Regions from separate parts of the Homo sapiens genome. Here region 1 is linked to region 2. A link means that fine-mapping ties the variant in region 2 to the expression of a gene that starts in the linked region. Tissue or cell type: whole blood. Region 2 holds a variant in brackets; the other region holds the start of a gene. All regions are shown on one strand. Distances are between the middles of the regions.

Region 1 (7,742 bases), 85 kb after region 2:
TAGCCTGAGGAGCCTGGTTCCTTCAAGACAGGGAGGTAGGGGATCCTGAGCTCTGGGCGGTTGGTTCACCTAGCAGCTCCCCGTCCCCAGCTGGGAGGCATTTGTTCTGCATTCTGCACGATGATTACAGCCCTGCCAAGGTTAACCCCTGCACTCCTGGGCACAGCCTCTCAAAGGGAAGGAAGGGGACCGCAGGAAATTGGGGGAGGAGAAAAGCATGATAAAGGGAGACTGCCCAACCCTGGATCCTTCTTGGGGATATTGAAACTTCTCCCTTTCTCCCGTTTTCCAGAGGGAAAAACTGAGTCAGATCCTTAAATCAGGAGTGGAGCCAGGAACAAGGGCACAGCCTACATGGAGATAGGTTTCTATCTGGAGGCAGGCTGCAAAGGAGGGAGAGGGCTCCTCTCTGCCTCAGCTTACCCAGATGTAAAAGGGGGCAAGAATTCCTGATTCACAGGTTGCCTGTCAATGAGCTGGAGAAGACAAAGCGTGTGGCATATATAGTAGGGAGGTTCTCAACCTCTTGTTCTTTCCTGCCTGCCCTCCCTGCCCGCGGGTGAAGAAGATGGAGCAAGCATGGGGCAGGTTGTAACCACTTCCATCAGGACTGCTTGCTCAGTCATCTGCCTGGGGCTCACAACACCCCAACTAGTAAATACCCACACTGCTATTATACCCATTTCAGAGATGAGAAACTTGAGGCTCAAATGGGCCAAGTGCTTTGCCCACGGTCAGCCACTGGGCCAGGATTTGAGCTCAGGGCCTTTGACATTGCACCAGACTGCCTCCTTTACCAGCCGCTCTAGGGATCCTCTGACTAGAGTGACGTGTAATTGATTGTCTAACCAGGTCACCTTTGAGAATGAAAGGAAGTGCTATTAATAATTACACTGGAACAGTATGTGTAATCTGGGCTGTCCTAGGCAAACTGGAAAGTATGGCCATCCTGCCAAAGTAGGGAGCTTTACGCAAATCACTTCACTTATCTGCAAAAGGGACACCATGGCAGGACTTTCCCTATGGGGCTCTCACAAGAATTAAATGTCATAATGCATGTTAATGAGCTACAGGACCTGGTATGCATCAGGTGCTCAATAAGTGCTGGTTACTACTGATGCTATTAATAGTAATAACCACAGTAGCACTAGTTCTTTGTTTCCATCACTGTCCTTCCAGTCCATTCTTCACTCACAGTCAGATTTCTATTTTGTTTTTTGTTTTTTTGAGATGGGGTCTCGCTCTGTCGCCCAGGCTGGAGTGCAGTAGCACGATCTCAGCTCACTGTAACCTCCGTCTCCCAGATTCAAGCAATTCTCCTGCCTCTGCCTCCTGAATAGCTGGGATTACAGGCGCCCACCACTATGCCCGGCTAATTTTTGGTATTTTTAGTAGAGACAGGATTTCACCATGTTGGCCAAGCTGGTCACGAACTCCTGACCTCAAGTGATCTGCTCGCCTCGGCCTCCCAAAGTGCTGGGATTACAAGTGTGAGCCACCGCGCCCGGCACTTTTTTATTTTTATTTTTTAAGATGGAGTCTCGCTCTGTTGACCAGGCTGGAGTGCCGTGGTGCGATCTCAGCTCACTGCAACCTCCGCTTCCCAGGTTCAAGCAATTCTCCCTGCCTCAGCCTCCCGAGTAGCTGGGATTACAGGCACCCGCCACCACGCCTGGCTAATTTTTGTATTTTTAGTTGAGACGGAGTTTTACCATATTGGTCAGGCTGGTCTCAAACTCCCAGCCTCAAGTAATCTGCCCACCTCAGCCTCCCAAAGTGCTGGGATTACAGGCGTGAGCAACCACGCCGGGCAACAGTCAGTCTTCTAAATGTACACCTGCCAGTGCTGCCTGCTGGCTCACTGTCCTGATGCTGTTCCAGTTCTCCATGGGACAAAATACTCCTGGGCCGGCCCCCAGGGAAAGAGTTCCTACTGCTGTGCCACTTGAGCAAATGCTAGAATGCTTTGTGCCTCTGTTTCCTCATTTGTCCAGCTGCAGAAATAGCTCCTTCCCTTGGTGGCCAGCATGGGGATTCAGGGAGCCAGTGGAAGAGGCCTAGCCCCTGGGTGAACAGTAAAGACCTTGTCTCCTCCACCTGCGGGTAAATACAGCTCCTCATCCCCGGCCACAACAGCGCTCAGCCAGTCTCCTTCAGCCGGGTTTGCCTCCGCTGCAGGGTCCTCCACTCCCAGCCTTTGCTGTGCTGTCCCTTGCCAGCTGTGCACTGTGCATTTCCACTGCCCTTCCCTCTGCCTACACGTCCTTTAAGACTTAACTCACAACCATGCAGTGGCTCACACCCATAATCCTAGCACTTGAGGAGGCCAAGGCAGGCGGATCACCTGAGGTAAGGAGTTCAAGACCAGCCTGGCCAACATGGTGAAGCCCCCTCTCTACTAAAAAATACAAAAATTAGCCGGGCGTGGGTGGGTGCCTGTAATCCCAGCTAGTCCGGAGGCTTAGGAGGGAGAATCGCTTGAACCCGGGAGGTGGAAGCTGCAGTGAGCTGAGATCATGCCATGGCACTCCAGCCTGAGCAACAGAGAGAGACTCCGTCTCAAAAAAAAAAAAAAAAAAAAAAAAAAAAAAAAAAAAAAAAAAAAGAGAGAGAGAGAGACTTAACTCAGGTATCATCTCCTCTAGGAAGATTTCCTGAGCCCCCAGGCCCTGCAGGAAGTATTAGGGACCTCTCTGTGCCCTGACAGCCCGAGGACTCTATAGTCAGATGGGAGTAGTCAAAGGAGGGCACAACAACGGGAGGCAGGGGCCAGAGATCTATCTCCCCTCCTTGAGGATGGCACAGGGTCCCGGGTATGGCTGATTCCCTGCCCTCCATGGAGGTGGGCGGGGTGGGGGGAGGGTCTGTAAAGTCTCTGAGATGCGACTTCATTTACCTGCCGAGCAAGCCTCCTAGGTGCTCTTGGAGCAGGAAACACTTCACACAACATCTGATGCTGCTATTATCTATCCCACTTTCAGATCAGGAAACTGAGGCAGAGAAAGGTAAGTAGTGACTGAGGCAGGACAGGAGCCCAGGCTGTCCGGCTCCAGGGTCCCGGTCTTGACGGCCACTCTACCCCACTCTACCAGTCGCCCCAGTATGGCTGTCTTCCTCCTGGGCACCGCGGGGCCTGTACCGGATGGAAGGGAATGAGAATGGGGAGCAAAGGAGTGGGCATGTCATGCCTGTAAACATCAAGGTTTAAAGGCCCAGGCATTCAAGGCCTCAGATCGAGCTTCCCGGTTCCCCGAACTCCCGCAGGGCGCGGCTGGAGGGCCCAGGAGGGAGGAGAGTTCATCAGGCCTGGACGCCCCAAGCAAGGCCACGAGGGGAACCGGTGGAAGAGGGGTTGGCGGCCGGGGACCGGAGTCGCCTCCCCGGGGCAGCCCGCACGTTCCCCGGCTGGCCTTGTCCGGGGTGGCGAGCAGAGGCCTGGCCTGGCCCCCCAGCCGCGTCCCTGCCAGCTCTCGGCGGCCGCGAGGACGGTGCCGGGGAGGGGGCCGGGGAGGGGGCCGGGCCCCGCCCGCGGGCGGGAGGAGACGGGCGGGAGGCGGGAGCGCCCACACCCCGCCCCCGCCCCCGGATCCAGCCCGCGGAGCCCGCGGCCAGGGCGGCGCAGACCGGCCCAGCGACTCTCCCGGGCTGCCAGCCGGGACGCGCGGCCGCCGCCGCTGCAGACGACGAGTCCGCCCTCGTCCCGCGCCCCCGGGGCTCGCGGAGCCAGGTAACAGCCCGGGCGCGCGGGTCCTCGGGGCGGAGGCCGTGGAGGCCGGCGGGTCCCGGCGCCCGCGGGGACTCTGCACCCTACTAGGCTCCCGGGGCCGGAACGGGGACGGGACCCGCCCGGGAGAGGCGCCCCCGGGTGCCCACAGGAAGGCCGGGCGCGGCCGCGGAGCCGCGCGAGGAAACTCCGAGCTTTCGGGCTTCGTGTCCCGTTCCAGGCTGGTGGAGGGGGCAGAGGATCGGACACGGCTGAGCGGCCAAAATGCGCGAGGAGGGGGCGAGCCGAGGGGCAGAGCGGGGGCTGTCTCCGCGCCTTCCTGCGCGGGGGAAGGAAGGGCCGGGGCGGGCAGCGGGCGACGCGGCGGAATGTCTCCCCTCCGCCGAGGCCCACGCGGAGAGCGGGAAGTGGGGGGTGGGGGGCCCGGGGAGATGGACAGGCACCCTGCCCCCCTCCCCGACCGCCGCATTCCAGGCTGGAGCCGCGGATGAGGTCATCCCGTCCGGTTCCCCTCCGGCCAAGACAGCCGGTCGTCCCCTTCCCCCGCGGAGCGACCCTCCGCGTCCTGAGCCCCGTCCCCCCAGGGAATGTTGGATGGCCGAAGTCTTTCCCGGACTTCCAATCCCGGCCGCCCTCCAGATTGTTCTGCCTTTGCCCCAGCAGTGCCAGACCCGCAACATTCGAAGCCCTTTTCCTAGACCGGGAAACTGAGGCTTAGAGAGTAGGGGGGACTGGCCGGGAGGCCGCAGCGGCACTAAACGTGGCGCGGGGACCCGAGACGCGGCCCGCAGCCGCTCCGTCTCGCTCGGTCCCGGGCTGGTTCGGCTCTAACTCGGGGCGGTGGGCACGAAGCGCGTCTCCTTTCCACTTTCCCCGTCGCTCCCTAATGGCCCACGGTGCCCCCCTTGGAATACGGAGGACCGGGTCCCCTAGCGCGACTGCGAACAACTAGCTACCCCGTTCTGGCCTCAGTTTCCCCGTCTCTCCACCTTGAAGCGTCTGGACTTTGAGGAGCAGGAGAAGTCAGCCGACCGGTTTAACCCCTTATTCCAGGGACCAGAGCAGGTTTGGGGGAGCTGCCGTAACCATGACAGGGACCCGCTGTCCAGCGGTGGGGGGGGGCGTCACCCAGCTGGATGCCCGCAGGAAGTGGGCTGTGTGCACCCGAGCAGTGGCCTCCAGGATGAGACGTGGGCCCCTGGCCAGCACTGCGGCCTGCGGGTGACCCCCAGGTGAATGCCAGGGTGCAGCCGCCCCCGCTCTCCTTCAGACCCGCCCTTGGCCTCCCCGCGACCACATGTGCCTCCACAGCGACCCCTGTTGGCCCGATCCCGGCTCCAAAACTTGTTCTTGCGTCATTCCCACCATTGAGTGAGCTCAGGCCATGTGCCCAGGCCCTGACTATCCTCTATAGGGTAAATATAAGGACTCCAAGGACACTGAGGCTGTGTGGTGACCTCCTTGCCCAGGTCACAGGCAGTGAATCTGCAGAGCTGGGTCTCCTGTCTTCCCAGGCCTGCACCTGCACCCCACACCGGGCTCAGCACTGGGCATCCAAGCCCTCCAAATCGTCTTCCCCATTCCCCATCGTCTTCACCCCCACCCTGGGGCATTTACCAGCAATGTTGGTCTGTGACTGAGGGTAAATGTCTCCTTTCTGAGCTTCGTTTTTTCCATCTGTGAAAGGGGTGTTCTGAACACTAACGGGCGGTGTTCCTGAGCAGGTGAGGGGAGGTGAGCCTGGCACCAGGACACTTGGAGCCCTGCTTACTCCAGTGCCAGGTGAGGCACACCTGATGGCCAGCAGTGCCCTGTGGTTGGCAGCAAGTGCCACGTGGCTGCCACCGGGGTCCCTGGAATGAGAGATGTTAGTGTAAAGGTGTCAGATTTGAACCCATGGCTGCCCTGCTCCAGTATCTGAGGGTTTCATTACATTTTCTACCCTTGCAACTCCCCTGGGAGGGGAACTGCCTGGTGTGCTGTTCCGTTTTCCACATGGGAAGACCGGGTCCCAATACCCTGCCCTCAGCTCCACAGCGCTGCAGAGTCTCTCGACCGCAGTAGGCAGGGTAGTGTGAGGGGTGGGTACTATTGGGGGGGTGCCCAGAAACATTTGAAAGATGGGATCATCGCAAGATTGGGGAGGAAGCTGGTCCCCCAAGTCAAAAGTGACCATGGGGGTTCAGGGGGGAGGAGCCCCTTTTGCTGGGAGATGAGGTGCTGCCTCAAGAAGTCAGGGAGGCCAGGTGTGGTGGTTCACACTTGTAATCCCAGCACTTTGGGAGGCTGAGGCAGCAGGATGGCTTGAGTTCAGGAATTTGAGACCAACCTGGGCAATGGAGTGAGACCCTGTCCTTACAAAAAGTGGAAAAACTTAGCTGAGCATGGTGGTATGTGCCTGTAGTCCCAGCTACTCAGGAGGCTGAGGTGGGAGGATCGCTTGAGCCTGGGAGTTCGAGGCTGCAGTTAGCTGTGATGGAGCCACTGCACTCAGCCTGGGTGACAGAGTGAGACCCTGCCTCAAAAAAGAAAAAAAAAAAAGTCAGGGAGCTGGGGTGGGAGCAAGTGGGTAAGGCCACATGGCAGACCCTTCTACAGGACATTGTACAGAGGAACACCCTTCCCGCTCCCATTCCTTCCCCCAGAGATGCATCCTTAATCCCTGCTGAGCAGGGAAACTTGGCCCTGCCATGAACCTGTCACTTAACCTTGGACAGGTCTCCCTTCCCTCCGAACCTCAGTGCTGCCTGTCAAATAGGCCACGCTGCGGCTTTGCAGGGTTGTTGGAGAATCAGATGACATCATGTAATGGTTGGCCAACTGTGGATCGCTTCAGAACTTCAGCAAACATTCCACGAGGACTTCTCGGTGCCGGGGGTGCCAGGGAGGGAAGAAGATGATTCAGAAGTTCCCCCCCACGAGGGGGAGGAGTTAGGGTTGGGGGAGGATCAGATGGTGGGAAGGGAAGAGAATGTAGTCAGAAAACAAAGCAAGCTTTGTCCTATTGGCTTCTTTGTTCTTATCTTGTTATTTAACCTATTTTGAATTTCAAATAACATTAGAAGGGCAGTATTGAGATTTCTATGCTTGGAGGTGGCAGCAATGGTTTTAAAAAAGGAAGAAGGCTGAGCCGCAGACATAGGTGTTCTTAAGGATCATTATTGACTTTTATCAGCTGAGGTCCCAGGTCTGTGTAGGTAAGTGACTTGCCCAAGGTCACATTGTGAGGACACAGAGCCCAGCCTGCCCTCCCACTCTCAGAAGGGGCCAGGGTGATGTTTTGGCATGCAGGTTATCATGGAGATCTGTGATTCAGCTGGCATTGATTTGGCACTTGTTAAGTGCAGAGCCCAAGCTAGATGCCCAAGGGAGAAAGGCAGGAAAATCCAGGCGGCCTCCCCACCCTCCAAGTGCATTGCCGATCTCGGGAGGCGAGACTGGGCTCCACAAGCCAGTCAAGGGCTTATGTGAGTCAGAGGCTCTGAGTTCAAGTCTCAACTAGCTCTGTGGATCTGACCTCTAGCCAGCTTTGCCCTCAGTGGGCCACAGGAAAAGCATAGGATCACAGGTGCGCTCTAGCCTGGACTTTGTATGACACTAGAAGGAAAGGGGTCAGAACAAGAGATGCTTAGAGAAGCTGGAGCAGGGGAGGATGTGTGTGTGTGTATGGTGGGGGTGGGGAATCAGGAAGGAGAGATGCACAAGAAATAGCTTTTGGCACCAGCTGAGCTTTTTCCAAAGCTTGCTCCCTGACAGCAAGGCTCCTACGTCAGTTTGACAAACTGTGATAAAGTCTTTTCCTGCGGGCCTTCTCAGAGACTTGAATATGCTCACGCATGGAGGAGGCAGCTGGAAAAAGCCACTTTTGACCACAGGATCCTTATTCCAGGAAGCTCCTTGAAGGTGGATGGTTCAGAGGAACCTCTGCTCTGGCTGTTTACCCAGCTTCACAAAGCTTTGGTGAGGTGTCTGCTCCCTCCTGGCTTCGCTGCGTGGCAGAGATTTTAATGCACAGAGA
Region 2 (7,742 bases):
GGGGCGGAGGTTGCAGTGAGTCGAGATCGCACCACTGCACTCCAGCCTGGGCAACAGAGCGAGGCTCCATCTCAAAAAAAAAAAAAAAAAAAAAAAAAGCCACAGCTGGCAGGTGCTGGTGTGTGGAAAGGAAGCTGCATATCACAGGCTATGCTCCAAGACTGCTCTAGACCAGTCAGGAGCGGATTTGGGTGGCCCATCTCCCCGTGGCCAGTTCTGGGCAGAACTGGAAGGTGTTATTCCAACCCTTTACCTGCCTAAAAGAAGCATTTAAGAGTATCAAAGAAACAAGGAGTCCAAAAGAGATAAAATAAAAATCCCCCACCAGAGCCTGAAGTTCCACCATGAGAGCGTTGCCTGTGCTCAGGGAAGGCATTTCAGCCTTCCAGGGACTCCCAAAGAACCCCAGAGGATTGGGGCTGGGAGAGCTCTTCAGATCCATCATGGCCAGCCTCCAGGTGTTACTAATGGGAGACCGAATCCCAGAGAGGGCAAGACACTTGCCCAAGGTCACACAGCAAGCCAGTGGCAGGGTCAGAAACTGAAATCCACTCCCTCCACTCCTAGCTCTGTGCTGTCAGCCACCAAAGCCTGTCCCACTCCACTCCCTCCCAGCTCCCCCATGTTTGGATGCCTGGACTCAGCCCCCACTCCTCCCATCCAAGGTTCCAGCCCCCAGACCCACCTGGAGGGGTCCTCCTCCGGGGAGAAGGGGCCCTGTAGCTTAATGACGTTGAGTTTCCCCTCAAAGACACCGTAGCTGAGGGTGACCTGGGCAGGGAGATAGAAGAGTGTTGGGGCATCACACTGGGGATCCCCACAAGGGGGCAGCATCCTGGCACAGGTGGAGGAGGGGTTTTAAGCTGCAGGGAAAGCTGCCCGGGAACCTGAAATTCCCCGCTGGTGGTGGGAGCCCACCCCACGCCCCAAGGCACTTCACAGCTGGAAGAGCACTGCCATGCCCTTAATCCCATTTGCTCCCTCAAGAGTTGAGCTCCCCTGAGAAGCTGGAACAATACCCCCATCTACAGATTTGGAAACTGAGGCTCAACAGGAAAAGGCAGCTTTCCAGTAAGCTGCAAGCCTGGACTAGAATGGAGGTTTTCTGAGACTCACTGGAGGGCCTTGGCACATCCCTCTTCACCCGGAGCCCCTACTCCACCAGGCAGTGACGACATGGATCATGATTTCAGCTCAGAGGCTGTAGAGCACAGTGGTTAAAGACTGTGGGCATAGGGACCACCCAGCTAGGGTTCCAGTGCCCCTCTGCCCCATATTAGCTGTGTGCCGTGGTCAGTTCAGCTCGCTGGGTCTCATTTTCCCCATCTATAGAATGGGGATAATGTTAGTACTGACCTCATGTGACTACTGTGAGGAACCAGAGAGTTAAAGAAGGGTGGCTGGGTGCGGTGGCTCATGCCTGTAATCCCAGCACTTTGGAAGGCTGAGGCAGGTGGATTACTTGAGGTCAGGAGTTCGAGACCAGCCTGGCCAACATGGTGAAACCCTGTCTCTACTAAAAATAGCCAGGCATGGTGGTGGGTGCCTGTAGTCCCAGCTACTCAGGAGGCTGAGGCAGGAGAATCACTTGAACCCGGGAGGTGGAGGTTGCAGAGAGCCAAAATCGTGCCATTGTACTCCAACCTGGGCAACAGAGCGAGACTCTATCTCAAAAAAAAAAAGAAGGGAAGGACCCCAGTGTGGTGCCTGGCATTGTGGGTACTCAGGATACCCTAACCATTAGGATGCCCTGGTTTGGGCTGCCTCAAATCTGCCTCTCTTTCCTGGCTTCAGGCCCTGCCATCCTAATGGGACCAACCTCACACCCCAGTTCCAGGCCTGGCCAATCAACACTAACTCCAGGTGCTGGTAGGAGATGGGTCACCTGACCCAAGCCCAGTCATCAAATCAATGAACGCCAGCCCGGGGATCTGAAGGAAGGAGGCGCTCTCCTCCGATAGTGGGGGGAAAGCTGGGGCTGCCATCTTGCCAACATGAGGGCTGAGCCCACCTGAGGATGGGCCAACTTGGGGGAGAGCTTCTCAGTTATGTGAGCCAACAATTTCCTTTTCAGGTTAGCCAGTTCACGTTGAGTTTCTGTCACACTGTTGGGCAGGAGATCCCGGGGACGCTCCCAGCCAGGACCATCTACAGTGTCAGAGGGCAGCCTCTCCGAGGCAGAGCCAGTTGGACCTGTATCACCTGCCAGGTGGTGGGATGGGGTCCCCCTCCTCCCCCAGCCTAACATAATGCTGAGCGTCCCCCCAAAGACCCATTCCATCCCGGTAACCTCAGGGTTGGCAGGAACAGCACTGAGCAATGGATAGGGGAGTTTTGATGAAGGAAGGGGCTCCTAACAGGTAAAATTAGAAGAGCCAGCTGGGCTCCCCGGGAGGAATGTGGGGAGGATGGAAGACTGAGTAGAGGTATGGGTGGAGAGCAGGGTGGTGGGAACCTGAAGACAACCTCATCTCATTTGTTCAGGTCCTTCCCGGCATTTGAGGACCAGATCAAAGAATTTCAGCTTCACAAATGCTAATCCTTGAGGGTTAGAGGTGAAGGGGTTGAGTCCCTGTGTACCCTTAGGGTGTCCTTTGCCACCCTAGGCCTCAGTTTCCCCATCAATAGGGAATACCCAAGACCCATAATCTGGAGTTCCAGGTTTCTTTCAAACGCCAGGAGGGAGGGTTGGGGGGACCCCATGTTCCTTTGGTTCCCCTTCCCATTTGCCACCTGCCCCCAAGGCCAGCTCACCTGTTCTGGGAGCTGTGCAGTCCTCAGCAGCTGCAGGGTCTCCAGGTGGGAGTGAAAGAGGGGGCTGGGCTGCAGGCGGCCGCCCAGCTTGCACTCAATGATATAGCCCATGGTGCAGTCATCAGGCAGCCGGATGAGAGCAGATGTGTCCATGAAACGGGAGCCACTGAGGGACAGAGCCAGACTGCAGACGCTGGCCCAGGCCCTCCACACCCAGAGCCGTGGGCCACCCCATGAAGGCCCTCCACTGGGACAAGCTGGCAGAACAGAGCACCTGCCTCCTGCATACTGTATGACCTTGAGCAAGTCAGGAACCTTGGGGAGCCTCAGCCTCAGTCTCCTGTTCTGTGAAATGGGGATGCTAATGGCCGTGTCTTCGTGGAGCTGTCGTGAGGATTAAACAGGGAATGGGAAGGTGATGCCCTTTATAAATGTAGCCTTTCCTTCTCTCTCTGTCTTGTCATTCATTCATTCACTCATTTATTCATTGCTGGTGCCAGATACCATGCTAGGGCTGAGGATACAGAGATGAGAAAGAAACGCTTCCTGCCCCCAACAGCAGCCCCTATTCTGGCGGGAGACAGAGCAGGGAGCAGGTCTTTCAAAGAGTGGTGCTAAGTCAGAGGGAAGCATGCTGCCTGGGGGTACAGGGAGAATCAGGCGGGCTTTCCAGAGGAGGTGGCAGCTTTTTTGTGTGTTCATTTGTTTGTTTGTTTGTTTGTTTGTTTTTGAGACAGAGTCTCCCTTCATTGCCCAGGCTGGAGTGCAGTGGTGCAATCTCGGCTCACTGCAATCTCCGCCTCCTGGGTTTAAGCAATTCTCCTGTCTCAGCCTCCTGAATAGCTGGGACTACAGGCACCCGCTGCCATGCCCGGCTAATCTTTGTATTTTTAGTAGAGACAGAGTTTCACCACGTTGGCCAGGCTGGTCTTGAACTCCTAACCTCAAGTGAGTCACCCACCTCAGCCTCCCAAAGTGCTGGGATTACAGGCATGAGCCACCTAAACAGAGTCTTGCAGGATGGGCTGGAGTCAGCCAGTGCTGAGGGGAGACAGGAACAGAGTCCCAGGCATGGACTTCAACTGGCCGCGTATACCCCATTAATGCCGCTGCCCTGGATGCTTGTCCAAGGGGCAAGTGGGTGTGGAAATCCAGCCTGTACTCCCCTCCCCAGCCTGCACTCCCCTCCCCAGCCTGCACTCCCCTCCCCAGCCTGCATGCCCTCAAGCTGCACCTGCAGGAGTTGGAGGGAGAGGGCTTTTTCTAATTCACACAAAGGTAATTTAGAGGTGGGCAGAAGCCTGGGTGGGGGCACCCCAGGCACACGGATGACCCTGGTCATGTGTACACACACAGTTCTGTGGACATGCCCCAGGACAATGAGCCCGCTCTTGTCCAGTATGAATTGCCTGGGGCGCCCCTCCCAGCCAGGGCAAGGCAGGGCAGGCTTGGGTAGTAGCAAGGCTTGCAGACCTTGGAGCCAAACCCAGCAGCTGAGTGACCTTGAACCTGGCTGACCTCAGACTGGCTTAATCTCAGTGCCTCAGTTGCCTGAGATCTAGAAACAAGACTAATGCCACCTTCTCCCCCAGGTGTTGTGATCCTCTTGATGGAGCACAGAGCTGGCTCAGAGTCAGTCCTCAATACAAGGGAGTGGCTGCTGATGGTGCTGTTAATAATAATAATAGCCCGGAAAGACCTCCAGAAGCCAG[G/A]CCTCGCCACTTCTAGAACACCTGTGTCCCACCCCCACCCACACTGCGGCCTCCACTACCCCTGAGATCCCCTCATAATATTAGGAGTAATATCATCTCCCTTAGATGATATTATGAATAATATCACAGGATGTACACCCACTGTGCTATTAGGAGTAATATCATCTCCCTTAGATGGCCCAGTGTATAGTGGACTGTCCCAGCTCAAATACCACCTCTTCCTGGAAGCCTTCCCTTCTTCCCTCACCCAGAAGGCCCTTCTCCCTCCTCTGAAGACCCTTAGATTTGGCCTTCACCTCCCCTACGGCATTGACCAGTCAGAAAAGGGCGGTAAATAGCACCTACCAGGGCCAGCCCAGACATTTTCTCATTTAACCCTTACTACACCATTGGCCACTGCATTATCAGGTCCATGTGCCGACGGGGGGACTGGGGCTCTTGGAGATGACATGACTTGCCTGTGAGTGGCACGTCATGCGCTCAGCCGTGCAGCCCCTGAGGGCAGGTGGCAGGTGGCTTGTTCACCACCAACTGCCGCTCTGTGACACACGCAAATGAGGAGCAGCTTCTCCTGAGCTCACTCTCAAAGCCCTTCCTGCTGCAAAGGCCCCTCCTGTACCCCAGCTGCCACCCCCTCCCCGCCTTCCTGCCCACCCCTGGGTCTCTGCTTACCTGGCCCACGGAGCCATCTTCAAAGCCAGTTTGCGATTGATGCAGAAGCCAGCACCCCCAGTGGCAAACCAGAACTGTACCAGCCTCTGAGAGAGAGGAAGGCCAAGGGGCAGAGTGAGCCTGGTGGCAGTTGTGGGGAAAAGGGACAGCCAGGCCACCCTTCACCCCCAACCAGCATGGCTCAAAAGCCCTTTATTTTGAATCTCACTAGAGTCTTGCTACAACCTGGCATTATTGCACCCATTCTATAGATAAGAAAACAGAGGCCCGAAGTCACATAGTTAATTATGAGTGGTGAGGTCACTGATCAGACTCAAGTCCAGCTGAATTCCAGTTAAAGGGGACAGGTGTTGTTTTACCCACCCAGCCACCATGCCCCTTTCCCCTGAGAAAGGTCTCTACCTCACTCCATGTGGCTTGGGAGGGGCTGCCGAACATGGCACCTGCTCTCCTGGGCCACAGAGGTGGGCCTAGGTTGACGGGGCCTGAGTGTGCATAGGAAAGATGTGGCTGGGAAACAAAGGTCAGGCTGTGTCCAATACAAATCACTAACACTTTTTTTTTTTTAAGAGACAGAGTCTTGCTCTGTTGCCCAGGCTCAAGTGCAGTGGCACCATCTCTGCTCACTGCAACCTCCGCCTCCCAGGTTCAAGCGATTCTCCAGCCTCAGCTTCCCAAATAGCTGGAACTACAGACGTGCGCCACCACGCCCAACTAATTTTTGTATTTTTTAGTAGAGACAGGGTTTAACTATTTGTTGGCCAGGCTGGTCTCAAACTCCTGACCTCAGGTGATTCACCTGCCTCGGCCTCCCAAAGTGCTGGGATTACAGATATGAGCCACCGCGCCCGGCCTCAGATCACTAACACTTTCTAGTGTTGACTTCGTGCCAGGTCTCATTCCAAGGACTTGGAGAGATGACCTCATTTCATTCTTTCTTCTGTGTTCACGACCACTCTTTGAGTAGGGGCTGTTATCACCCATTTCACAGATTAGGAAACTGAGGCACAGAGAGGTGAGGTGACCTCAGTCAAGGTCACAAAGCCAGGAGGTGGCAGGGCTGCCGTGTAAACCCAGGGAGTCAGGCTCCAGCGTGCAGTTCTCCACCCCAGAGGCAAACTGCTTAGGCAGAGGTGAGTCGCCAGCAGTGAAGTGGTGTGAGAGCCTGGGGGACCCCCTGGCTCCCCTGGAATCACTCATACACAGAGCCCTAGGGCCCAGAAGAATTTAATTAAGGCTCAGAGGCTGATTAGCTACTGATAATTAAGGCTCTGTGTTTTCTGCTCTTGGTTTTCCTAATGAAGCAGATGGGGACCTGGGAAGGGAGGTTGAGCCCCGCTGTGTGCCCAGCTCCTGCACCAGGCACTGCCTCTAGAGAGGGACCTCCCGATCTGCCTTCTTCCTGGAGCCAAGGGAGCCCTAGGGCCAGGACCACTCTAACACCTGATGCCCAGGGGGTCCTGGGGACAGGGAGAGAACCATGCAATATTTGGGACATACTTATACTAAAAATTTCCTCATTATTTATGAGAAAGTCAAGTTTAACTGGATGTAGTGGTTTTTCATTTATTTGTTTAATGAATCTGGCAACCCAAATCAGTGTCCATCCAGGTCAGGAACTGAGGCGGGTACAGAGCCCCCTGTTTTGCCAGGTGTCGACTCTTCAGTCACAGGCTAGTGGAGGTGTCTGGAGGGAGAGGGTGCCCCAGGAGGGGAAGGTGGGGAAGGGTTCTGGGGCTCAGGTGGCAGCAATCACCCAGCCCCACAGTATTCAGCAATTTTTTTTTTTTTTTTTGACGGAGGGACGGAGTCTCGCTCTGCCGCCCAGGCTGGAGTGCAGTGGCACAATCTCAGCTCACTGCAACCTCCGCCTCCTGGGTTCAAGCGATTCTCCTCTCTCAGCCTCCCGAGTAGCTGGGACTACAGGTGCCCGCCACCATGCCCAGCTAATTTTTGTATTTTTAGTAGAGACGGGGTTTCACCATATTGGTCAGGCTGGTCTCGAACTCTTGACCTCAGGTCACCCACCCACCTCAGCCTCCCAAAGTGCTGGGATTACAGGCATGAGCCACTGCCCCCAGCCATTCCAGCATTTTAACAACCTGCACACCTACATGGGGACACCAGGTGACTGGGAGCCCTGCTGTGGTGTCACACAGCCTCAGCTCACCTGGATGCTCCCTGAGTGACCAGGACAAGCCGTGGTTCCTGGGGGATGGAGGCCTCACTATGTACTGTGTCTGTGCCACGACTGCATGATCTCAGTCTCCCCATTTCACAGAGGAAGAGACTGAGGGTTGAAGAGGGGAAGCTACCAGCCCAAACCCACATAGGGCCAAACCTGAAACCCAGAACCCCTCTCACCTCTCTAGCACACCCCCACCCCCAGGACCGGCCCGGCCCTTGGGATCAGCGGGCCAAGGGGCAAAGGAGGAGGAGAGGGACCCACCGTGCGGTTGTGGGGCTGTGGCTCTGAGGCATGGATGGGCCGGTTCAGGCTGGGCCTTCCCACATAGACGTCGCGGGCCAGCGGGAAGGCTCTCAGAAGCTGCAGCAGCGCCCTTGGGTTCACATAGTTGTCATCGTCCACATGGCAGAACCACC

Evidence for each region. PIP is the estimated chance that this variant, and not a neighbour inherited with it, causes the effect.
Region 1: CDC42EP1 starts here. The variant in region 2 is fine-mapped to the expression of CDC42EP1 in whole blood (INTERVAL, PIP 0.98).

What each region holds. Positions count from the first base shown.
Region 1 is chr22:37,556,862-37,564,603 of GRCh38, forward strand. It overlaps CDC42EP1 (CDC42 effector protein 1), which reads left to right and starts at 3,619. Exons shown (of 3, transcript NM_152243.3): 1 at 3,619-3,727. RefSeq lists enhancers at 4,255-4,861, 4,862-5,469, 4,938-5,167, 5,470-6,076, 6,604-7,104 and 1 more.
Region 2 is chr22:37,471,758-37,479,499 of GRCh38, forward strand. MFNG (MFNG O-fucosylpeptide 3-beta-N-acetylglucosaminyltransferase) reads right to left here. Exons shown (of 8, transcript NM_002405.4): 4 at 7,588-7,741; 5 at 5,139-5,224; 6 at 2,755-2,920; 7 at 686-771. Among named protein-coding and RNA genes, the nearest start is that of MFNG, 11 kb to the right of the region's middle. The variant G/A (reference allele first, on the strand shown) is at 4,467.